Homo sapiens: one gene and its partners. The protein of the gene in region 1 purifies or fractionates together with the protein of each later gene. This does not show direct contact. Each region holds a gene or a part of one and is shown in the gene's direction. Other genes may lie near its edges.

What was found.
Region 2: the proteins of PPP2R2D (region 1) and PPP2R1B purify together in Homo sapiens (affinity purification with mass spectrometry; 5 studies listed by BioGRID and IntAct, with this or other methods). This does not show direct contact.
Region 3: the proteins of PPP2R2D (region 1) and SERTAD4 purify together in Homo sapiens (affinity purification with mass spectrometry; 5 studies listed by BioGRID and IntAct, with this or other methods). This does not show direct contact.

Annotation. Positions count from the first base shown.
Region 1 is NC_000010.11:131,903,489-131,911,227, forward strand, and holds part of PPP2R2D (serine/threonine-protein phosphatase 2A 55 kDa regulatory subunit B delta isoform), read left to right. Parts: intron 1-7,739. UniProt on the Homo sapiens protein: Substrate-recognition subunit of protein phosphatase 2A (PP2A) that plays a key role in cell cycle by controlling mitosis entry and exit. Involved in chromosome clustering during late mitosis by mediating dephosphorylation of MKI67.
Region 2 is NC_000011.10:111,755,797-111,763,535, reverse strand, and holds part of PPP2R1B (serine/threonine-protein phosphatase 2A 65 kDa regulatory subunit A beta isoform), read left to right. Parts: intron 1-2,484; coding exon 2,485-2,717; intron 2,718-3,584; coding exon 3,585-3,732; intron 3,733-7,739. UniProt on the Homo sapiens protein: The PR65 subunit of protein phosphatase 2A serves as a scaffolding molecule to coordinate the assembly of the catalytic subunit and a variable regulatory B subunit.
Region 3 is NC_000001.11:210,228,012-210,236,388, forward strand, and holds the start of SERTAD4 (SERTA domain-containing protein 4), read left to right. Parts: upstream 1-4,784; 5' UTR 4,785-5,000; intron 5,001-5,623; exon of another isoform or gene 5,624-5,874; intron 5,875-8,377.

The DNA of each region.
Region 1 (7,739 bases):
AATCTTGACAAATACTTTGTTCTCTGAATTAAACTGATGGGAACTTTTTGCAGTTTTAAATCCCTATTTTAAGTTAAATTTTGAGTAAATCCAAAAGTTTGGTATTTCGAGTTGTCGTGGTTTCTTTTGTAACATTGCTTTGTGGTAATTATCTGCATGTGTTTTGGTTATTCTGTGTATTCAGAGCTGTCTATTTTAATCCATGTATGCTTTGGCCATAGTAACCCATCCAGATTAACACATTTATAAGTCACCATCGATTTGTCCCATAGTTGTGATACCGTTGCTTTGTATTAACACCAGAGAGTCAGTGATGATGAAGGGAAGTGTAGTCGTTAGTCACCAGGGATTGCTGAGCAGCAAGGATCAAGAAGCTGGTCATGCCCAAACGCAACCTTGAGGGAGAGATGTTGGTGAGAGATAAGAGATGGGTGGCTGGGTACGGTGACTCACACCTGTAACCCCAGCACTCTGGGAGGCTGAGGCGGGTGGATCACTTGAGGTCAGGAGTTTGAGACTAGCCTGGCCAATATGGCGAAACCCCATCTCTACTAAAAATACAAAAATTAGCCAGGCGTGGCAGGGCCGGCCTGTAATTCCAGCTCCTCAGGAGACTGAGACAGGAGGATTGCTTAAACCTGGGAGGTGGAGGTTGCAGTGAGGCGAGATGGTGCCATTGCACTCCAGCCTGGGCGTCAGAGCGAGACTCCGTCTCAAAAAAAAAAAAAAAAGGAGAGAGATGGCCGGGCGCAGTGGCTCACGCTTGTAATCCCAGCACTTTGGGAGGCCGAGGCAGGCAGATCACAAGGTCAGGAGATCGAGACCATCCTGGCTAACACGGTGAAACCCCGTCTCTACTAAAAATACAAAAATTAGCCGGGTGTGATGGCGGGCGCCTGCAGTCCCAGCTACTTGGGAGGCTGAGGCAGGAGAATGGCATGAACCCGGGAGGCAGAGCTTGCAGTGAGCCGAGATCGTGCCACTGCACTCCAGCCTGGGCGACAGAGCAAGACTTTGTCTCAAAAAAAAAAAGAGAGATGGGCAGTTCACAGGGGTTTTTATCGTGCACTGCTGCTCAGGCTGTAGAACTTAAGGTATAGCAGATTTTGTTTGTTTAGATTTGTGGCTTGTGAGGCATTTTGTTCTTGAAGGTTTTGTTCTGGGCCAAGTTCAGCTCTGTAGAGCTTTACTACAGCCCTGCACTCTGGCCGTCTTTCTGCCCTCTCTGCAATGGGTAAGGAGAAGGAGCCTTAGAGATTAAGGCCTGGGTCCTCTCCTGACTTCAGTGGGGTGATGCCCAGTGCACAGGAAGTGGTGCAGGGCTAGGAGTAGGCACTCCTGACTTTGGAGGTCATGAAGTGAGTGACATAGAAAAGCCTTTGGTTTTTGTTTTGATTTCTGTTTTGTTTTTAAAACTAATAGTTTTGGGCTGGGGAATCAGAATCAACCTATGGTGAAAGTGCTGGCCTATGTAAAATTTGATGCGCACCCCACCCCCCTTTTTTTTTTAAAAGAATTGGGTTTAGCTATGGGTCAGGTCATTTTGCTAAGAGTTGTGATTCCACTGGGTCATCAGACTTCCCATCCCCCTGCAGGTAGGAGTAGAGCTGAGCTCACAAGGAAGTTATTAAGTGTCCTGCTGATGAGCAGGTGTATAAGCAGCAGTCAGTGGTGACTTGCATCTCCTCCCTTTGCTGGAAGGTGGGACTAGGTGAGTTTATATGCTGAGTTGACCAAGAGTTAAAATAGTAAAACCAGGGGGCTTCCAGCAGGAAGCAAGTAGAAAAGTTGTTTGTTAGCTTCTAATTCCACGATGTTGCGGTTCTAAACGGTGGCTCCTTTCTGGAAATTGTTAACTGTTGTGCAGATTTTTTCTGCATGTTATGGAATCACCTTCACCCAGCCCCTGCTCCCTCTCCTGGAACGTACTTCATTCAGCATGTGATGTGTTTTGCAATGTCACATGGTATTTCATCCTTTGCTTCTCTCTCTGGTAGACTGAGCTCCTCAAGCTTGAAGGCTGGCTGTCCCCCTTCCCACCCCAGCCCTTGTAGAGGACCCAGCACGAAGGTCATGATAGGTAACAGTTGCTGAGTGGTCATTCTGTGCTAGAGATTGCTCGCAGTGCTTTTCCTATGTCAGTGAATCTTCACACCACCGAAGAAGGAAGGAAATACTGTTCTTCCCAGTCTCAGATGCAGAATCCGAGGCGTGGGAGCAATTAACCTGGGTCACAAAGCGAGTGTATGGCAGGGCCAGGGTTTGGAGCCACGCCGACTGGCCGCAGAGCCGTGGAGCGCTGTACTGCTTCAGCGACCATTTGCAGCCAGCACAGTACTGATGAAGCCCCACTGTGGCATGCGGCCGTCCAGCCTTGGGATGGAGCTGTTCTTCTAAAGCTCGGTGAAAATCTTACTACCAAGAGGCGTGTGAAAATGCTTTTGAAGGCAAATGAAAATGGAATGCCTTTAAAGGAAGTCTGTGTCAAAATGATAGAAGATTAGTAACAAGGATTCAAGAATAGCATCACTTTCCAACCAATTCTCAAACTATTTGAAGAGTAGATACCACAGAGACAGTAAGTAAGTGAAACACCTGCACGTCAAGCAAGTGCTGCAGCACCTTTGCCTGTGATGTCACTTTCCACATGACTGCAACCTGCTTACCTGCAGGGAAGCTATGGGTCTTGCTCCTTTATATATTACACTAATTGCTCCTATGGAGAAACCGTGGGGAGGGGTTGGGGGAGGAGGGTCTTATATTGAACCTGGTTTTATATAGCTTTATAGCTTGATAACAGCTGGTTCCTTTCTTCTCAGAATTTGTAGTTTTAAGTGTATTGGGGTTTTATTTGTTGATTTTGCTTTAATCAGTTTCTTAATCCATGATCTGTTGCTTTGAATTAGACATTAACCTGTTTCTAAAGAGATAGACTAAACAAAACTAAAGGTTTGTTTGCTTAAGTCAAGCTTGAGTCTGGGGAGTTATGTAAGTAACATAGATATCTGGTTAATCTGGTAGGATAGCCTTTCCAAGGGAGTTTACATTGGTACTTTGAAAGAAACATTTTAAGTCGCAGAAAGGTAACAAAAATTAAGTTAACTGTAGCATCAGCACCAGAAAGTTACTGTTTCATTGAATGTAAGATAATGTCTGGCTCGGTGGCTCACGCCTGTAGTCTCAGCACTTCAGGAGGCCAAGATGGCAGGATCCCTTGAGCCCAGCAATTTGAGACCAGCCTGGGCAACATAGTGAGATCTTGTCTCTACCAAAAAAAAAAAAAAAAGAAAGAAATTCGGGACGTTTGCCAGGTATGGTAGTACACACCTGTAGTCCCAGCTACTCAGGAGGCTGAGGTGGGGGCATCGCTTGAGCCAGGGAGGTTGAGGCTGCAATGAGCTATGATTGCACCACTGCACTCCAGCCTGGGCAATAGAGTGAGACCTTGTCTCAGAAAAAAGAAAAAATAATAATAATTATATATGTATATATATAATCTTTGAAATTAGGTGTGTCTTTTATATATAATCTCCTATAATGTCTTTTATATGTATATATAAAATCTACATCTAATTTCAGAGATACTAAGATGTGGGGAAATGTACTTAGAATCAATGAAATACGGTGTTGGTGAATGCAAAACTTGTCAGTCATATTTATTGATTTCTTCTGTGTACAGATAATGGGCATTTGGTATTTATTCATTTATATTTTTTTTTTGGTCTTAATGGGACATGGTGTCTGCTTATTTGAATTATTTCCGGTCTGATTTCTATATTCCATTGTAGAATTTTCATTTACTTAATATTTATATCTGTGCCATTGAAGAGAACCTTCAGGAAAGCATCCTCTGGGGAAGGCCATCAAACAAGCAAACAGTCTAGTAATATTTTGCAGTTTGACTTATGAGAGCTTCATAGGAAGCCTCTGCCTTTAGGAAGTCAGTTGTATGCCTTAAGATTCACAGACTCGCCGGGCGCAGTGGTTCACGCCTGTAATCCCAGCACTTTGGGAGGCCGAGGCGGGCGGATCACGAGGTCAGGAGATCGAGACCATCCTGGCTAACAGGGTGAAACCCCGTCTCTACTAAAAAAAATACAAAAAATCAGCTGGGTGTGGTCGCGGGCACCTGTAGTCCCAGCTACTGGGGAGGCTGAGGCAGGAGAATGGCATGAACCCAGGAGGCGGAGCTTGCAGTGAGCGGAGATCACGCCACTGCACCTCCAGCCTGGGCAGCAGAGCGAGACTCCATATCAAAAAAAAAAAAAAAAGATTCACAGACTCATCATGCTTAGTACAGCCACATCTTAACGCTCAGGAGGCTGGCCTGGTCATCGTTACATCGTGAAGTTAAGTTTACAAGATATGTGGTGGTATTGAATCATACCTGGTGATTTTCCACGTTCCCTGATTTTAAGCAGTCTGCTGTTCTGATGGGAAGTTCCAGGTTGGGTTTGTGTCTGCTGTTTTCAACTCTGAGGGCCCCTTTCTGAGCTTCAGCTCGCTTATCTAGAAGTTAAATCAGAAGCTTTTTGTTAAGATCAAACAATGTGCAGTGCTGTTGCAACTTGAAAAGTGCTTTTCAAGTATTAGATACAACTGTTAATTCTCTTGTATTTTAAAGTATTGGGGCTTGGTTTTAGCTATATTTAAACACAAAAATAGCAGTTTCTTGTTTTTCCTTACCTGCTTCATGTCCATCTACCCAGATCCCTTCCACTGGGCCTGGCCTCTTAATGTTTACGTTATTATTCAGTGATTATTCCCATCCCTTGATCTTTGCTCCTGTTTCTTTCTTTGCCTAGAGTATTTATTTTGCTTCCTGTCCATTCCCTAAGCCCTGCTGATCCTTCTAAATCCACCTCCAATCCCACTTGGCGAGTCCCTGCTCCAGCTCCCCTCAGCGTTCAGTGTCGTCTTAGACTCCAGATTTCCCTTTCACACTGTGTTCCATGTTGTTTAGCAATTGGCTGTGTCCTGCTTGTGGTTCCCTTATTTTATCACATGTATTATTAGGCTCGTCTCTCCCACTGGATGTCAGTCAGCATATGGAATGTCATGATATTACCAGGTGATGGAGAGGAATTGTGCACGTGGAATTTGGTACACATCCCTTTTTCACCCTCTTCAGGCTTTGTGTTAACTTGGGAAGTTACTTACTCTTTTCTCATCTGTTAAACGGGTACTATTACTTGTGACCATTACAGGGTTGCTGTGAAGATTCCAGAAAATGTATGGAAAGCTCTGACAAACAAACACGTTAACTGGTAACTGTTCAGAGGCTGTTGTCTTAAGAGACCCTCTTGCATAGGAAAATAGCTGACTCTGTCACTTCAGGGAGCCAGTTTAAGAAAAATGAAGGGTAATGCAGGGGCCAGCTTTCAGCTTGGCACATCTGAAAAGTTCACGACAGCATACCAAAGGGCTGCTAGTGCTGGCTGTTGGAAATAGAAATGCAGTTCTTGCCTTCAGGAAACGCTGTTTGGACACAGACAAGCAGGTGGGTCCTTGCACCATGGCTGGACCAGAGCACACTGAGGCAATGTGAAGAAGTACCCAGTACACAGACTTGGGTAGGGAGTGGAGGGGAGGACATCAGGGTATAAGAAGAGGGAGGAAGGGAAGGGGAGGAGAATGTTCCAGGTGGAGAGTGCTTGGTGTGGAGGTTGGACAGAGCATGGTATGTTCTGAGAGGTCAGTGCTTGGCATGGTCCTCTGGCAGAAAAGGGAGTGGCTGTGATGAGCAGGAGGCTGGCTGGGGCCACAGGATGATGAATAAAGGACTTGAATCGTGTGCTCAGGACTCTGAGTGATTGTGAGCTTTTCAGATCCTAAGCGGAGGAGCGACATCAGCTTTGTTTTTAACAAGGTCACTCTGCCCTTTGGAGAGTGGATGGTGGTGGGTAAGAATGGAGATAGGAAGTTACTGCAATAATAAAGATTGGGAAAATGGGCTTACTCTAGTTTCGGGGTGGCCAAGCTTTTTTGTAAAGGGCCAAATGGTAAGTATCTTAGACTTTCAGGCCATCCTGTCCCTGTTGCAACGACTGAATTCAACTCTGCCTTTAGCAGGAAGACAGCCATAGACCCTGCAGAGATGGATGGGCGTGGCTCTGTGCCCTGCTTCCACAGGAGCATGCCTACAGAAAACAGGCAGCTGGCCAGATGTCGCCCAGGTTGTGGTTTGCTAAACCCTGACCTAGAGTTGGTTTGCAAAGTCTTTTGGTGCTGGAATAATTTTATACTCTTAATAGTTATATTGAGGATCCAGAGAGCCTTTGTTTGTGCTGGTTATCGCTGTTGATGTTTTCTATATTTGAAATTAAAACAGAACAACTTACAATATTTATTTTACTTTAAAAGAATCTACTACATGTTAACATAACCTTTTTAATGAGAAACAACTTTTCAAAAACAAAAAGATTAAGCAAGAAGAACAGTGTTGTTTTACACTTTTGCACATCCTTTTAAAATATGAGGTTTAAGAGGTGACGGCTGGATTCTCAGACCTGCTTCTGCATTCCGTGTGTTCCAGTTGCTTTATTGAAATGTGTAAGGAAAATGTGGCGTCACACTTCCATGTGGGCAGAAGAGGGGTCATCCTGGAGGCTCTTAGCGATGCACCATAACTCGCCAGGTGGCAGCGTGTTTGAGTGTGCCGGCCTTTCGGAGTCAGTGACGTTTCTGTACTCTCTTCCGTCAGAACCCTGAGGTCTGTCTTGTGCTCAGAGTGGGTCTTTTGCTCATGGACATGATTTGGTAACATCACACGGGGGTTGTTTGGAAATATTGTTACATGGAGTTGTTTTTTTTTCTAAATGTTAACACATTCCATTATGTAAACTTGAAGAAAATCCTATTTTTTAATGTCATCACTGATCTCATCAGAAGAAAAAGTGAGAAACTGTCAAATTAGCAGTAGTAGAGAAAAGTTTTCCAAAATTCTAATTTTCTCTTGAAAGCTTGGATTTTATCATTGGTAACAAATACTGTCAGTTACTTTCTGTGAAGTGAGGGACGCAGTGTGTTCATTTTCAAGTCAATTTCTGCCAGATACCAAATTCTTAATAACCAAAGTTGGTCAGTTGTTCTTTCAAATAAAAATGGCATTCCATGAAAAAAAGGGCTAGTTCAGCTTGTGTGATACTGTGGAATATGTATTTGGTCTTCCCTAGTACACAACTCCTAAAATCCTCGGGCTCGTCAGTGATGTCTTCGTAATGCGTTGGCTAAGGGCCGGCAACCCCTGGGTAGCTTCAGAACAGGGGCTGGTCACCAGAAAGACCTAGGCAGGATTAGAAGGTTGGGACTTTCAGCCCCGATCCCCAACCTCGGGGAGTGGTGAGGGGTGGGGGAGCTGAAGGTTAAGCTGATCACCAGTGGCCAAACAGTCTTGCCTATGTATGGACTGGGTTTGAAGATAGCTTCCAGATGTTTCTGGAGGGGGGCCCACCCAGAGAGGACACGGGAGCTCTGTGTCTCAGCCCCCGTCCCTCGCCCTGTGCATCACCTCAGTGTCCTCTGTAGTCTCCTTTATAATAAACCGCTAAACTAAAGTGTTTCCCTGAGATCTGCGTGCTCAGTGAGGGTTGTGGACACTCTGATTGATAGCCAGTCAGTCAGAAGCACAAGTAACACAACCTGAGGCTTGCCGTTGGCTCTCGAAGTGGGGGGCAGTCTTGTGGGACAGAGCACTCAACCTATGGGATTTGATGCTTTCTCCCAGCATCAAGATTTAA
Region 2 (7,739 bases), on another chromosome or scaffold:
ATCTTTCCTCTAGATTGCTGTAGTAGCTTCCTAGCAATGCTTTCCACTCTTGCCTCTCACCCGACTCTTACAGTTCACATCACCCAGCAGATGGCTCACTCTCTGCTATAGCTCTTAGAAAATCCAAATTCTGTACCTTAGCTTACAAGGCTTTTTATGACCCGCCTCTGTAGGATTATCATATGCCCAGTGGTACTGCATGAGAAGAGGTGACAGTAGGCAGGGAACAGACTGCAAAAGGCCTTGATAACCTCTTCCATTCACATTGGTCATCTTTCTGTTTTTTGAACTAACCAAGCTCATTATTCCCTTAGGACCTTTGCCCTAGGTCTTCCCTCTAATGAAAAGCTCTTTCAAGCTTTCTGTGGCTGGCTCCTTGTCATTCAGGGATCAACTTCAATGCATCTCCTCAGGGAGGTTTTCCCCAACCACTCAACTTAAAATAGCCTCACAGTCATCCCTTACTACATCATCCTACTCCTTTTTTCTATAGAGTACTCATCACCATCTACTTATTTTCTTGATTGATTGTTGTCTTACTCCATTAGAATGTAAATGCCACTAGAGTGAGGAACCTTGTCTGCCTTGTTTCTTCTGTGTCCTCAATGCTAGAATATACCAATAATAATGTATTGAAAAAATGAGTTTCAGAGGCTTGGAAGCATGAAACAGGCTGGGTTCAAAACTGCCGGAGTGTGGCTGGGTGTGGTGGCTCACACCTGTAATCCTTGCCTTGGGAGGCCAAAGCAGCAGGAGGATTGCTTGAGGCCAGGAGTTCAAGATCAGCCTGGGCAACATAGTGAGACCCCAACACTTAAAAAAAAATAGCTGGGCATGATGTCATGTGTCTGAGTCCTAGCTATTCGGGACGCTGAGGCAGAAGGACGAGGAGTCTGAGGCCGCACTGAGCCATGATTGTGCCACTGCACTTCAGCCTGGGCAACAGAGCAAGACCCTGTCTCTTAAAAAAAAAAAAAAAAAAGAACTGCTGGAGTGTGAAGTGTTGAGGCTGGGTAGGCAGAGTGGTCATCAAGGGCCAGGCAGAGTTCAAATCAAGAGACCACTCATAAGCAATTCTCAGGAGCATGGCCTCATCCTGTAGTAATGATAGCTATTATCCAGTGGTACTGCACGAGAGGGGGTTACAGTAGGCAGGGGACAGATCATGAAATGCATTGGCAAGTGAGAAACAGTATCTTTTCAATGAGTTTCTGAAATACCTTCTAGGAAAGCTGAATACTGTCTACCTGTGTGTATCAAACAATTTTTAAAATATATTATTAGACACACTTCTTTTCTTTAACTCATTATGCTTCTGTTTCACTCTTGGTTAGTTCTATATGTGGGTTTTATGCTTTAAAATCTGTAGCTCATGGCATGTGTAGAATCTACCTGGACTACATGCAAACTCAGTAAGGCAGAGGTTCAGAGAGCCAGCCTGTTTACACTTTTTACTAGGCCATGCCATATTCAGTTACTGCTCTTAATCCAGACCATCCACCCCATTTGGCTTCTTTTATTTCTAAAGCTGTAAGCAAGGTGTCCTACCATCTCTGTACTTTACCTTTTTTTTTTGAGACAAGAGCCTCACTCTGTCACCCAGGCTCAAGTACAGTGGCACAATCTCGGCTCACTGCAACCTCTGCCTCCCGGGTTCAAGTGATTCTCATGCCTCAGCCTCCTGAGTAAGCTGGGTTTACAGGCGTGTGCCACCATGTCTGGCTAATTTTTGTATTTTTTGTAGAGACAGGGTTCCACCATGTTGGCCAGGCTGGTCTCGAGCTCCTGACCTCAAGTGATCTGCCCACCTCGGCCTCCCGACGGCTGGGATTACAGGTGTGAGCCACCGTGCCTGGCCAGTCTCTGTAGTTTTCACTTGATTGTTCTGTCAGAAACTCCTTTCTGCCCTATGGCTAATGGAAAGTTGCTGAATGTGTTCTGAAAAAAGCAATTTTGCATTCAGCATTTTATAGGTTGGATAAAAGGATGGGATGGAGATGGTGGATAAGGGTTGCTTGCACCTCTGGGAATGGTGGAAAGATACTGAAAAGGCTGTGGACTCAGTGACCTGACAAGCTGTTATCCTGTATTTGTGGTGCCTAACATTGGTCATAGTTTTGTACTTACTCTTGAGGAAATATACATGATCCTGTCTGAATTTGGCTATGTATCTTTTAAACCTAGTGATTCAACTCACAGTAATATTAATATTGTGTCAAGTCTTTTACACTGTGTCATTTGTAGACACCATCTGGGAATTGCCATCTGGGACACGAGATCTTGGCTTTTCTACAGAAGTCGTGTCTTTGGGTTGGCCGCACCATATGTTATCACTGTGTGAGCTGAAAGTAACCATTTGGTATGATGCAGCTAACATTCTGGTTACGTGTACCACCTCCCTTCAGTCACTTTAAAAGGTGATTATCTGTTTCTAACCTGATTCAATAAGTTTTCTTCTCTGGTTTTCCTTTTTAATCCATTCAGCCTCCTTTGGAAAATCTGGCAACTGTGGAAGAGACTGTTGTTCGTGACAAGGCTGTGGAGTCCCTGAGACAGATCTCCCAGGAGCATACTCCTGTTGCTCTGGAAGCTTATTTTGTACCTCTGGTGAAACGCTTAGCAAGTGGGGATTGGTTCACCTCTCGCACATCTGCATGTGGTTTGTTCAGCGTTTGCTATCCCAGGGCATCAAATGCTGTTAAAGCAGAAATCAGACAGTAAGCCATGGTATTTTTTTGCCTTGTTAAAGCAGAAATCAGGTAGTAAGCTATGAGTTATTTGGGATTACTGGGGACTTGTAGCTGACAATTTACATAGTACCTTGTTACCAATGAGTGGCTGATACTAGGATAGTAGGATTTATGACATCTTTCTTTTTTTTTTTTAAGAGATAAGGTCTTGCTCTGTTGTCTAGGCTGGAGTGCGGTGGCACAATCATAGCTCACTGCAACCTTGAACTCTTGTGCTTAAGTGATCCTCCAGCCTCAGCCTCCAAGTAGCTAGGACTACCGACATACACTACTGCGCCTGGCTAATTTTTAAAAAAAATTTCTGGCTGGATGCAGTGGCTCATGCTTGTAATCCCAGCACTTTGAGAGGCTGAGGTGGGAGGATTGCTTGAACTCAGGAGTTCAAGACCAGCTTGAGCAACATAGTGAGACCTTGTCTCTACTAAAAAGAAAAAAATTAGCTGGGCATGGTGGGACCCGCCTGTATTTCTAGCTACTCAGAAGGCTGAGGTGGGAGTTCACTTGAGCCCCCGACAAACAACAACAAAAATATTTTTGGCATATAGATAGGGTCTTGCTATGTTGCCCAGTCTGCTTTCAATTCCTGGCCTCAAGCAGTCCTCCTACCTGGGCCTCCCAAAGTGCTTTGATTACAGGTGTGAGGCACCATGCCTGGCCTATGATGTCATTTTTTATTATCCAGTTGAATATGTTTTATTTTTGTTACTTCTATAAGTAGAAGCTTAGTCACTGATTATTGTAAGATAAAACCTCTAAAAGTCTGTCTGTGTGTATGGGGGGCAGGTTTATTCAGTGTTATTTGATGGGAAATACCTTCATTGTTTTATGTTGCAGGCAATTCCGTTCCTTGTGCTCAGATGACACACCAATGGTACGACGTGCTGCTGCTTCCAAATTGGGTGAATTTGCAAAAGTTTTGGAATTAGACAGTGTGAAAAGTGAAATTGTTCCACTGTTCACTAGTCTAGCTTCAGATGAACAGGTAAACTAACTCTTAGTATTTAAGGGACACAGATATGCTCCTTTCCTCTAAATTTTCAGAATTTCTTTGGGGAGTTTTAGTTTTCTTGTTAGGATTCTTTTTACAGAATTAGTGCTGATTCTGGCCTGGTTAAAGTGTAACATGCTTATCTCAATGTTCTTATGTTTCTTTCTTAACCAGACCATGATTTCTCTCTTACATTAGCAGCTGTTAAAAGAGTGGGGAGTCAGAGAGGAAATGGGAGCCATAATTAGAAAGGAAGACCAAAGCTGCATGGAGGGTAACATACCTTTGGGAATTGCTGGCTGTATTGTAATATGAGGGAGTAATGTTTCCTGGAATTTTTGACTTTTCAGATAAATAAGCTTAGAATGTGTTAGGAAAGCTATTTGACTCTCTGCTTCTTCTATAGTAGTGTATGGGATTACTTCACATAATCGTATTCAATTCTGAAGATCTAGATCTCTTTGGTGTAGAAATAACAATAAAACTAGCAAACATCCAAATGAAGTACTTAATTTTTCTCTGCCTTTAAGTAGTTATGTGTATTAAGTAATTCAGTCCTTACAACAGCCCCATGAGATAGCCCATTTTACACATTAGAAAACAAAGGCACAGAAAGTTTAAGTAACTTGCTGAAGTTTGCATAGTTAGCAGTAGTGGAGTCAGAATTTGAATCTAGGTGGTTTGGCTCCAGAATTTGTGCCCTTCACAGCTAGGCTGTCCCGCTTCTCTGTAATGGTGCTTAATAGGATCAGCTCCCAGAGTTCCTGGACTCTAGAATAGTCCTTTTGGGCTTTTAATTTGCATGTTGCCTGCCCTAAGATCGCTTCATGTGTACAGGACCACAAGCCCCAGGACACATATTAATGAGTCTCATTTTCAGATCCTAAATCTAAAGATCTAAATCCTACTTTGAAAATAATTTTAAAAATTATTAGAATTTTTATTCTAATAATAAATGTACAAAATGAATGTATAACTTAATGAACTATTAGAAGGTAATACCAACTTGTTAACGATCACCTATGATAGGAGACATCACTTTGACAGCCACTATCCCAGAATCCCTCCATGGATTCCCTTTCAAACACAATCTCTCTTTCCTCCTCCACTTGCCACTCCATTTCCTTAAGAGTAACATTATCCTGACTTTTATGGTAAGCGCAGCCTTTGTTTTCTTTGCACTTTTTCTTTTCTTTTCTTTTCTTTTTTTAAAAGGAGTCTCACTCTGTCACCAGGCTGGAGTGCAGTGGTGCAATCTCGGCTTTCTGCAACCTCTGCCTCCCGGGTTCAAGCAATTCTCCTGCCTCAGCCTCCCAAGAAGCTAGGACTACAGGCGCATGCCACCACGCCAAGCTAACTTTTGTATTTTTAGTAGAGACGGGGTTTCACCATGTTGACCAGGATGGTCTCCATCTCTTGACCTTGTGATCCGCCCACCTTGGCCTCCCAAAGTGCTGGGATTACAGGCGTGAGCCACCGTGCCCGGCCTTCTTTGCACTTTTATTACCTAAATGTTATAGTTTAAAACAGTGCTTTACAACAGAAATATAATGTAAGCTACCTGTTGATTTTAAGTTTTCTACTGGCCATGTTTTTATAAGAAAAAAGAAATAGGTGAAATTAACAATATTTGTATTCGACCAAAATTTTCCAAAATCTTATTATTTGAGTGTAAATAACGTGTACCAGCCACATTTCAAGTCTCAGCATGAGATGATGTTGTTAATAGGGTGGTAGTGAAGATGGAAAGGATTTGGATGTCAGTTTGGAAGTGGGATCAATAGGTTAGTATTATTGGATTGGATCAGTGGGAGAGGAATCAAGATCTCCTAGATTTTTTGCTTGAGCAACTGGGTGGATGATGGTGTCATCGTTAAGATAGAGAAAATTCTGGGAAGAGGAACAGGTGTAGGAGAGAAAACGAAGTTCTGGAAGAGAAGTAATTTTTTTTTTTTTTTTTTTGAGATGGAGTTTCACTCCTGTCGCCCAGGCTGGAGTACAATGGCATGATCCCAGCTCACTGCAACCCCTGCCTCCCGGGTTCAAGTGATTCTCCTGCCTCAGCTTCCTGAGTAGCTGGAATTACAGGCGCCTGCCACCATGACTGGCTAATTTTTTGTATTTTCAGTACAGATGGGGTTTCACTGTGTTGGGTAGGCTGGTCTCGAACTCCTGACCTTGTGATCTGTCCGCCTTGGCCTCCCAAAGTGCTGGGATTACAGGTGTGAGCCACTGCACCAGACCAGAGAAGTAATTTTTTAACAAATATGTATTAGCTTATATTTCAGTAGTTGATTAGCAGTCCCATGATTTAGCATCATTTTCGAAATTCAAAAATATCTGTGTAGTCACTACCAAGAACTTAGTCCTGTCTTTTTTAGCCTGTGCACCTGCATACAGAGGAATGTGTGTGTCTTTGGCATATAGTCAGTTATTGTTGATACACAGTTTCTAAGATTTGTAATATTTTGGAAGTTGGAGTCACTGTTATGTCTCTCAAGTATGTGTATACGTATATACATAACTGTTATTGTACACACTTAAAATTTTTTACCTATTTCTCCTGGGTGCTAATGTTTACATGTATTAAGATTCTACCTTATATATGTATAATACACAAATCTACAGTCTCAATTTCTAATTTCTCATTGATGTTTCTTTTTTTTCGGTGTTTTTTTTTTTTTGAGTTGGAGTTTTGCTCTGTCACCCAGGCTGGAGTGCAGTGGCGCGATCTCGGCTCACTGCAGCCTCTGCCTCCTGGGTTCAAGCAATTCTGCTGCCTCAGCCACCTGAGTAGCTGGGATTACAGGCACGTGCCACCATGCCTGGCTAATTTTTGTATTGTTAGTAGAGATGGGGTTTCACCATGTTGGCCAGGCTGGTGTTGAACTCTTGACCTCAGGTGATCCGCCTGCCTCGGCCTCCCAAAGTGCTGGGATTACAGGCATGAGCCACTGTGCCTGGCCCCTCACTGATTTGTCTTGTATATTTTCCACTTGTTCAAAGGACGTAGGTGTCACGTTGACATTGGCTGTTTACATTTGGAAAGTTGAGTTCATTAATCCCATACTTTTCTAATTTCTGTGTTTTTCTAGCCACAGCTTCCTCAAAGTTATTCTGTCCTTGATCTTCGACATTTAAATCCAACTGATTTTTGTTTTTGATTTCTAACTTTTAATTGTTCTGTGTATTTCTTTCCAAGTCATTATCTTATGCTGCCTACACTCCTGTTACTGCGACCCTGATCTGAGTTTTTTGAAAACTAAGCTTTCTAAGTGATTTCCTTTACTCTTACTCTTACCTTTGTCCTAATCTGTTATAAATAACTTGTACAAATATTGTTTTCATTTTTATCCCTCAACTTTCTGTTATAGTAAGGCTTTGAAGGCATCATTAAAATGTTTTTTTTTTCTTTTTTACTTAATTTTAAAATTTTCATTTCCTTTATAGAAACTCTGCATTCTAGCCAAGGTAATTACTTTGCTGTTTACTCATAGTACAAAGTCATTTCTATCTTTATGACTTTGACATGCCATTCCAGGCAAAGGGAGCAGCTCTTTCTTTTTTTTTTTTTCCTTTTTGTTTTTTGAGACAGAGTGTCACTCTGTCGCCCAGACTGGAGTGCAGTGGTGCAGTCTCGGCTCACTGCAAGCTCCGCCTGCTGGGTTCACGCCATTCGCCTGCCTCAGCCTCCCGAGTAGCTGGGACTACAGGCACCCGCCACCACGCCTGGCTAATTTTTTTTGTATTTTTAGTAGAGATGGGGTTTCACCGTGTTAGCTAGGATGGTTTCCCTCTCCTGACCTCGTGATCCGCCTGCCTCAGCCTCCCAGAGTGCTGGTATTACAGACGTGAGCCACTGGGCCCGGCCGGGAGCAGCTCTTTCAAGATATAAATACACGGCCAGGCGCAGTGGCTCGCGCTTGTAATCCCAGCACCCAGCACTTTGGGAGGCCGAGGCAGGTGGATCATTTGAGGTCAGGAGTTTGAAACCAGGCTGG
Region 3 (8,377 bases), on another chromosome or scaffold:
TATTGAGTGCTTTCAGTATGCCAAGTACTTGTACTGTGCTAGGTGCTGAAGATACGGGGGCTAACAAAAAAGACAAAAATCCCTCCCCTTATGGACATTACTTTCTAGTGGAAGAAGAGAAGTGATACATTGAACACATGCATAACAGATTAGAAGGTGATCTTTATTTTATCCTCTGGATGAAAATCAAGCAGGCTATAAAGGTGAAGTGTTAGAATTTCAAGCATAGTGGTCAGGGCTTATTAAAAAGATGATACTTGAGCTGGGATGTGGAAGAGGTGGACATGTATCTGTGCAGCTATCTGAGGAAAGAGCACAAAAGGAAGAGGGAATAGCCAGTGCAAATGTCCTGAGGACAGCAAAGCTGGCTGTTAGAGGAACAGAAAGGAGGCCAGAGTGGCTGGAGTTGTTGGAGGCAGAGTGAGATCAGAGAAATAAAGAGAGACTTCTAGTCTTTGCAGGCTATTACAAGAACATGGCTTTTATTTTGAATGGGGAGCTCTAGGAAGAGCCTTGGCAAAAATTGACACCATTGCTGTTGACCCGAGATTGAACTAGAAAGAGGGCCAAAGATGTAAGCAGGAAGACCAGTTAGGAGGCCATTGTCATATCCTAGGCAGAAGATCATGATGAAAGCGTGGACCAGAATGGTGGTGGTAGAGATAATGAGAAGTGATCAGAGTCAAGAAATTTTTTTTTTTTTTTTTGAGATGGAGTCTCACTCTGTCACCCATGCTGGAGTGCAGTGGTGCGATCTTGGCTCACTGCAACTTCCGCCTCCCAGGTTCAAGAGATTCTCCTGACTCAGCCTCCCAAGTAGCTGGGACAACGGGTGCATGCCACCATGCCTGACTACTTTTTTTTTTGTACTTTTAATAGAGAGGGGGTTTCATGATGTTAGCCAGGATGGTCTCAATCTCCTGACCTCGTGATTCACCCCCCTCGGTCTCCCAAAGTGCTGGGATTACAGGCATGAGCAACCGCGCCTGGCCGAGTCAAGAAAAAATTTAAAGGTAGCCTCTCAAGGACTTTCTGATATATTAGATAAAGGAGATGAAGTAAAAAAAATCAATGATGACTCTAAGGAGTTTTGTCAGAGCAAGTAGAAAAATACTGTTGTTTATTGAAGGAGACTATTAAAGGTGGCATAGGTTGGGAAAGCAGAGATAATAGGGGTTGAGTTTTGGGTCTGTAAAGCTTGTGATACCCATTAGGCATCTACACAGAGTCTGGAAGTCAGAAGAGAGTCTTGGCTACAGATATGAATTTGGGAGTCATCAGAATATAGAGAGTTTTGAAGGGAAGAGACTAGATGAGATCCACAAGAGAGTGACTGTAGAGAAGAGACAAGGTGCAAGGACTGAGCTTGAGGCAACCCAACATCCAGAGGTCCTAGATAAGAGGGGGAACCAGCAAAGGAGACTGAGAGGAACAACCAGTGAGGCAGGAGGCAAATCAGGTGGATGTGTTGTCCCAGGAGCCAAGATAAAGGCGTTTAAAGGAGGAGGGAGTGGGCAACTGGGTCAAATGCTGCTTAAGGGTCAAGTTAGATGCAAAATGGCCTTTGGATTTAACAACGTGGAGGTCAGTGGTGACATTGACCAGAACAGTTTCAATGGAGTGATCGGATAAGAAAGCCTCAGTGGAAAAGGTTTGAGAATAGAAGAGGAATTGGGTGCAGATGCTTCTTTTTGCCATTAAAAAAATGTTTTTTTTTTTTTTATTGTTGCTGTTTGTTTTTTTGATGGATTCTTGCTCTGTTGCACCCAGGCTGGAGTGCAGTGGTGCGATCTTGGCTCACTGCAACCTCTGCCTCCTGGGTTCAAGCTATTCTCCTGCCTCAGCCTCCTGAGTAGCTGGATTACAGGCGCCTGCCACCATGCTCAGCTAATTTTTTGTATTTTTAGTAGAGGCGGGGTTTCGCCGTGTTGGTCAGGCTGGTCTCAAACTCCTGACCTCAGGTGATCCACCCGCCTTGGCCTCCCAAAGTGCTGGGATTATAGGCGTGAGCCACCGTACCCAGCCAAAAATGGTCTATTTTTTTAAGCCAGTAATTTTAACTTTCAATTAATCCAAGTGGGTATTGTGTCCACAACAATCTGAATAAGTCAAATTTTACTTGTGAAATCCCCCTATCAGACAAATGACAAAAAGGTTTTGTGAAATGGGTTTCAGCAATTTTAAGTCTGAAAGTCTCTTTGTTAAACAAAGGAAAACAACCACTGCCTTCAGTAAATTTGCAGCTCAAAGTATTATAAGTTTTATAATCAAACTTCTATTTGGAGCTTCTCACACACACACACACATACACACACACACACACCCCAAAATGATGACATCATAGTTGTCAATTAAATATTGTACCTCATTATAAATAACAATTACTCATTCCAAATTTTTCATTATTGATTTATAGTTGGTTCTTTTTTCATGCCATAGCTACCACATAGTCACCTTAAATTTGTAATGAGGTTTCTCATTCCATAGACATTTGTCTGCCTCTTGTACTTGTAGACACAGGTTCATGTTGTCAACAGTTGGGTATTGAATCTCAAAAAACATTAAGCTTAGGATTAAAGGTAGGGCAGGGAAAGCTGTCAGTAAAACATGCTAACCTAATGTATCTGATGAGGACAGGGTCTAGTTCATACTCAGAACTGCAAGGATGCTGTGAAGTACAATGATTTGATACTTGTGATACCATTTTGTTGTAACATTAAAGCCAAGAGTCTTCTCCACCCAAGGGCAATGCCAGTTTCCCAGAAGGCTCATTTCTCCGAGCCAAAGCTCCAAAGATGCCAGTGCACCCATGCTGATAACTTAGTCTCATGTTATTTCTCAATTTTATGCTTAATTTGCTCCTTTTGATTTTATGTATTTTCACACAGCCAAGTGTACATGGGGATTTACCCATAGTCCTTTAAATGCCATAAAACTTTAATATAGGGAGATAAAAACCATAATAAGCCATGCCTCCAAACCCTCACATTTAGTTCTTTTGAGTTTGACAATAACCAGTTTTAGATTATTTGGAAATTTGGATTTCTACGTACTTGCACTGCTTTAAATGCCCTTGTGCCTTTCCTAACCCTCCTCTCCCACCCAGATGAAAATTATACTCTACTCTTAACCTGGACATGCAACTTCCATTGACTGCACAAAATGGCATCTTTACAATTCTTAAATTATCATCATAATGGCCCACATCATGCATGAGCCAATGCAATTTAATATGGTTCAGAATAAAGCCAAGATGGATGCCCAATTCCCAATTTTAGGCATGCAACCCTGGAATGTCTTTTGGAAAAAATGAAATAATGCTCTTGGTAGGCTGTTGGGTTCATCTGTTTTAAGCATAATTGCCATCTCTCAGCTTCCTAATACCCTTAAAACCTCTGAGAGTCTTTAATGTACAAAGTTCAACAAAAACACCTTCAAAACAAATTAGTTCTAATTATGTTTAATATTGGTTTGCTGCTTTATTGAATAATCTACATTTGCTTTTAAAAAAAGGAAATTCACTTAACTGCATGTCAGTCACCCAAGTTTTAAGTGTACAAATGAAATGGAAAACATTTATTACACAAATTTAATTACAATTCTAAGAAATAAACATGCAAATTAGATAGAGTTCAATTTGCAGATGCTAATCCTCATCCTTGATCTTGTTCCTTCCTCCCTTGATTTTCAGTCTGTGCGTCTTCTTGATTCCTAGGGAGCCAGGCAGCCAGAGGTCTGGTTTTTCACAGTCGGAGGATCACTGTTTTAAAGAAGTGTTATATTTAGCACATCTGGTATAGTGGCAGTAAACAAACATTATAGTCTTTGTAACACTTTTGTGCAGGTGCCTTCTCCCGATTTTATTAGGTCTATGCCTTCCAAGCCTCTGCCTTCATTACACCTGAAATGACCCATCTCGACTATGGAGGGGTCCCTAGACAGAAGTTATGAATTAATGATTTTAAAAAATAAACTCTGAGGCCACTATAGGAGAAAATTACTATTTGCAAAATATTCTGATTCCAAGGCTTAAATTACATTCTCTTGAGCAAGGACAATCTCTTGTATTACTTTTTATTTCCTGGAGGTTTTCCCTGGAGGCTCCCCACCCAGAAAGGGTTGCCAATTCAAGTTGCAGCAGGACCAAGGTTGCTTTTTTTTTTTTTTTTAATACGTACGCAGCTCAGGAGGGAAACGGGCGGGGGCGGGCGGCGAGGGAGAATAACTGTTTGGTCCTGCAAAGACATCTGTTTCTCATCTCCGTTTGCTGTGGCAAAGGAGAAGAAAGTCTTTTGCAAAGGGTGGGAAAGGCACAGATTTTTTTTTTAATCACACGCACACACAACAACAACAAAACTAAACCAAATTTAAAAAGACAAGATATCTCGGAAGGTTCCAGAGTGAATACATTATTCGGCTGGAGCCAAGCCCCCAGGGCTAGGGCGGGAGCCCGAGAGCGCGTGGGGTCTGGGCTGCGGGCTGGAGCTGGGCCCGCGTGTCCCCGGGCACCGGGAGGGGAGGGGAGGAAAAGGAGGAGGGAGGGCGGGAAGCAGGGAAGGAGGCAGGGGGCGGGCTGGGGTGGGGGTGCGGGAAAGGCGCCCCGTGTGCAGCCTGAGGAGCGGCGGCGGCGGCCTGAGCAGAGGGAGGGAGGGAGAGCGGGCGCGCTTGTCATGTTCCCTCTCTCACCCTGGGGGCATCCTGCAGAACCTCTCCTCGGAAATCCACGGGGAAATGGCAAACAGGATTGACGGGTTTCACACGCTCCTCGCTAGACAGAGCCGCTCATTACCATAACCGTCTGCAGCGACGGCGGCGCAGCGCCCCAGTCGCGGCGGCGGGACCTGCCGGGACCCTTGCCCGCCGCGCACCCGCAGTCACCGCCGAGCGGGCGGCCGGGCCGGGACCCGCGAGTGTGCACCGGCGGCCGGGCTGGCGCCGAGCCCAGAGCGGACCAGCAGCAGCTCAAGCGCTGCGGCCGCCGCCTCCCCGCTGACCCCGCGGTAAGAGCCGGGCTGGGCGCGGGCCGCGGGGGCGGGAGGGCCGGGCAGGGTGGAGGGCGAGGGCCCCCCGGGGCTCCTGCCCTCGCAGACGGGCACCCACGCGGCCTCCCGCGCGCCCTCTTGGCACCAGGGCTGTGCCGAGGTCACCGAGTGGACTCGCAGCGGCCGGAGCGGAGTCGGGGCGGCGTGGGGGCCAAGGCACAGCTGGGCGCGGAGGCGGCGCGGGCTTTTCCCTGGGCTAGCGTGCGCCGCGGCGCCTTCACCAGGGCGGGAACCGCCGCCTCCTCTAGGGCTGCTCGGGCTGCCACCCGCGCGCACCGAGACAACTCCAGGGGCGGGTGGGGTCAGAAGCTCTGGTGAGACCTCATGGTCCTCCGTGGCCGCTTAGTCCCTCATCGTAGGGGAAGGGGTTAAGTAGGAGGGGTGCCCCCAGGTCCGGATGCCGCGGCGCTTGGCAGGTGGGGAGAGAGGGATTGTGGATGTCAGGAGCGCGCGTTTGCAAGAAAAAGGAATTGATGCAGTAGCTGACACCTTCTGTCCCCCGCCACCTCCGCCCCCGCACCCTCCTCCCAGGCAGCAGAGCTGCGCTGCGGGCGGCGGCGGCTCCTCTGTCCTCAGCTCACCTCCTCGGCGGGCTGAGGCTGCTGCCCGCCTGGTCCACGCCTCCGCCTCTCGCTTCCCTTCCTCCCCTCCCGCCTCTTCGGCCCTAGCAACTTTCCGAGTGCCCAGCTGTGGTCGCAGAAGCAGGGAATAGGCGTCCTCGCCGCCAGGTCCCACGGGCGCAGGGCGCTCCCGCAACCGCGGGCTTCCAGCGGGTTTGGCCGGCAAGGGAGGGAGGGAAGGCCGGGCCGACATCTGCTGCGGGCTGGAGCGCGGGGGCCCGGGCCAGCCCCGCCAGAGCCCTGCCAGCCGCTGTGAGTCATTTCCTTGGAATCCTACCTTTGGTGTTTATTTCCCTTAGAAGGAAACTTGGTTTTTTTTTTAAAAAAAAAAAAGGATAAGACATAAAGAATAATAATAGCTCTTATTCTTCAGAAGAGGCACACGGCTGCGGCACCGTAGAAAGACAACTTGCCTTTGTTCCCGGACACTTGGGGTGTTGTTTACTTTCTCCTGCGGCCAGCGGCCGACCGGGCGCTGCTGGCTACCCGGGGAGGGGCTGAGGGCTGCGGCACCGACACCCCGGGGGTGTGTCTGTGCGGGAGCCAGGATGTGGTTGGTGGCTGCCGCCCGCCTTCAAGAGGTCGGCCCTCCAAACCTCGGACCCCACCCCCGCAACCGCCACACACACACACACCTTGGGCACCAGGGCTCGGGCATCGGAGCACCCCTTCGTGCTCTTTAGGCCCAGCACCTGCAGCCCCAACCACAGGACCCAGCTTCAAGCTCTTGGCCTCGCGGGGCTGCAGCTGAGAAATGTACTTCCCAGGGCAGACAGGTGTACTGCAGGAACGGCAGAAAAGCGACATCTGTTTGTTTAGAAGGGTTGAAGAATTTTGTTCCGCCCATCCAGTCCCTTCCACTACCACCACCAGGAGCCGGACAAGCTATTGAGATCATTTTGGGACAATGTGGAGGTCAGGGGCTTGATGCCATTTAAAACTGGCAGCATCGATCGGGGGTGGAAATAGCCCTTTACTTCCCTGCTTTCCAGTGCTGGAATCAGACTGCTAACTGCTATAATGATCTTAATCAAATGCTCTCCAATTTTCAATGACAGATGGAAGAAGAAGTGAGCAAAGAATGACCTGGAGCCCCTTGTTAGATTCAAGGTGCCGCTGAATTCATAGCTACCCTGTTTTGTGTGCCAGCCACTCCTATTAGCATCATAATTGCTTCTAGGAAAGAACAAGCCCAACTCATCTGGAAAAAAACAAATTGTATAGAAATGCCTGGTAACTTTACTACGAACATTTGCTGGAAAAGCTTGGCATTCTAGCCCTCAGTCTTCTGGGGATGCTGGAAGTGTCATTCCACTACATCCACCTGGGTGTCAAAACAGACATTCAGGAGCCTGAGGATGAAGGGTTAGGGCTTTTTTTTTTCTTATCTTTTAAACCCATGCATAGACAAAACACACTCTAACACCCTCCTGTTGAATCCATCACCTCTGATCTTAGAAAATAAATTTTGCCATAATGTATATCCTTTTCTTTATTTAATATTAATAGAACACGAATTTGTGGACTTGAATTGCTGACGTCAGTAGCAGAATTATAAATCTTATCAGACAGAGAATTATGACAGTTTAGATCTCTACATATAATACGAAGAAAGATTCACGTTAAGCATTTGTGCTTAACGCTGCCCTGTCCAATTTTTCGTGAACATTCAACTTGCCTTCTTAATTTGTTAACATCCAGTGTAAGTTTTAAATAGACTAGGAAGACTCAATTGCAAAATCTCCTCCCCGCTCCCAAATAATCCCAACTCATTCATGTTTTATTCAGATTTACATAAATCACTTGCAGAACTCAGCCTCTCTAGTTTAGGGTTTTGTGTGTAACAGTTCTCAATTTAAAAAAGAAAAACTTAGTAAAATTAGATATTGTGAACAAAATAATAGCCAAGATAAATACTGTTATGCCATGTTTCAAGTTCACGTGCATAATAGGATATGCTGGAAATAATGCTAACAAATAGAAACGCTGAAATTCCTCACAACCAAAAAAGGTACTACCAAAAAGTTATTAAAATATAAACAAACTCTGACAAACATAAAACAGCACAGGGCCCATATAATGTCCTGTTAAACAAAAGTAATTGCTGCCAGGAGCCTGCAAATGTTTTTCTTTCTTAAGGGGCATGAGTTTGACAACCTGCTTTTGTTTACATGAAATAAAAGTCTGCATAGGCAAAAGGCTTGCATCTTATTCCCATGATCTAACACAAAAGTGAGTGTAAACTTCAAACTAGAAAATGTTGATTCTCTCAATAAGAAAGGGCTGCTGACTGTTGAAAAGCTGTAATTCATGTGCTCTTGGCAATAGTATTTCCTGATATGATTGTCTCTTAGAATAGGTGAAGAAACTGGACAATTTCATGAGAGTCTTCCAGGGAATAAATCATCATGAAGTTTGATACCCTACTTGGATGAGGAGTTTGAGAAATGATAGACAGAAGGACTTAATTTGTTAAATCAATGTAGGCTAAATTTCTTTGTTGATGACTCAAAGAGAAAAATAAATGACATGTCCCATCGTTTCTTTGTAAAGATTTAATCGAACCTTTCTTTTGCCCACTTGTTTTAAGGTTTACTAATAAGTCCGTACTGATGTCTCTTTGGAGGGCATCTTAAAAGAGAACGGGGAGGTGTTGTAGCAGCCCAAACCAGCTGAGTCCTAATTCTCTCCACTGACCTGTACACCTTCCCTGTC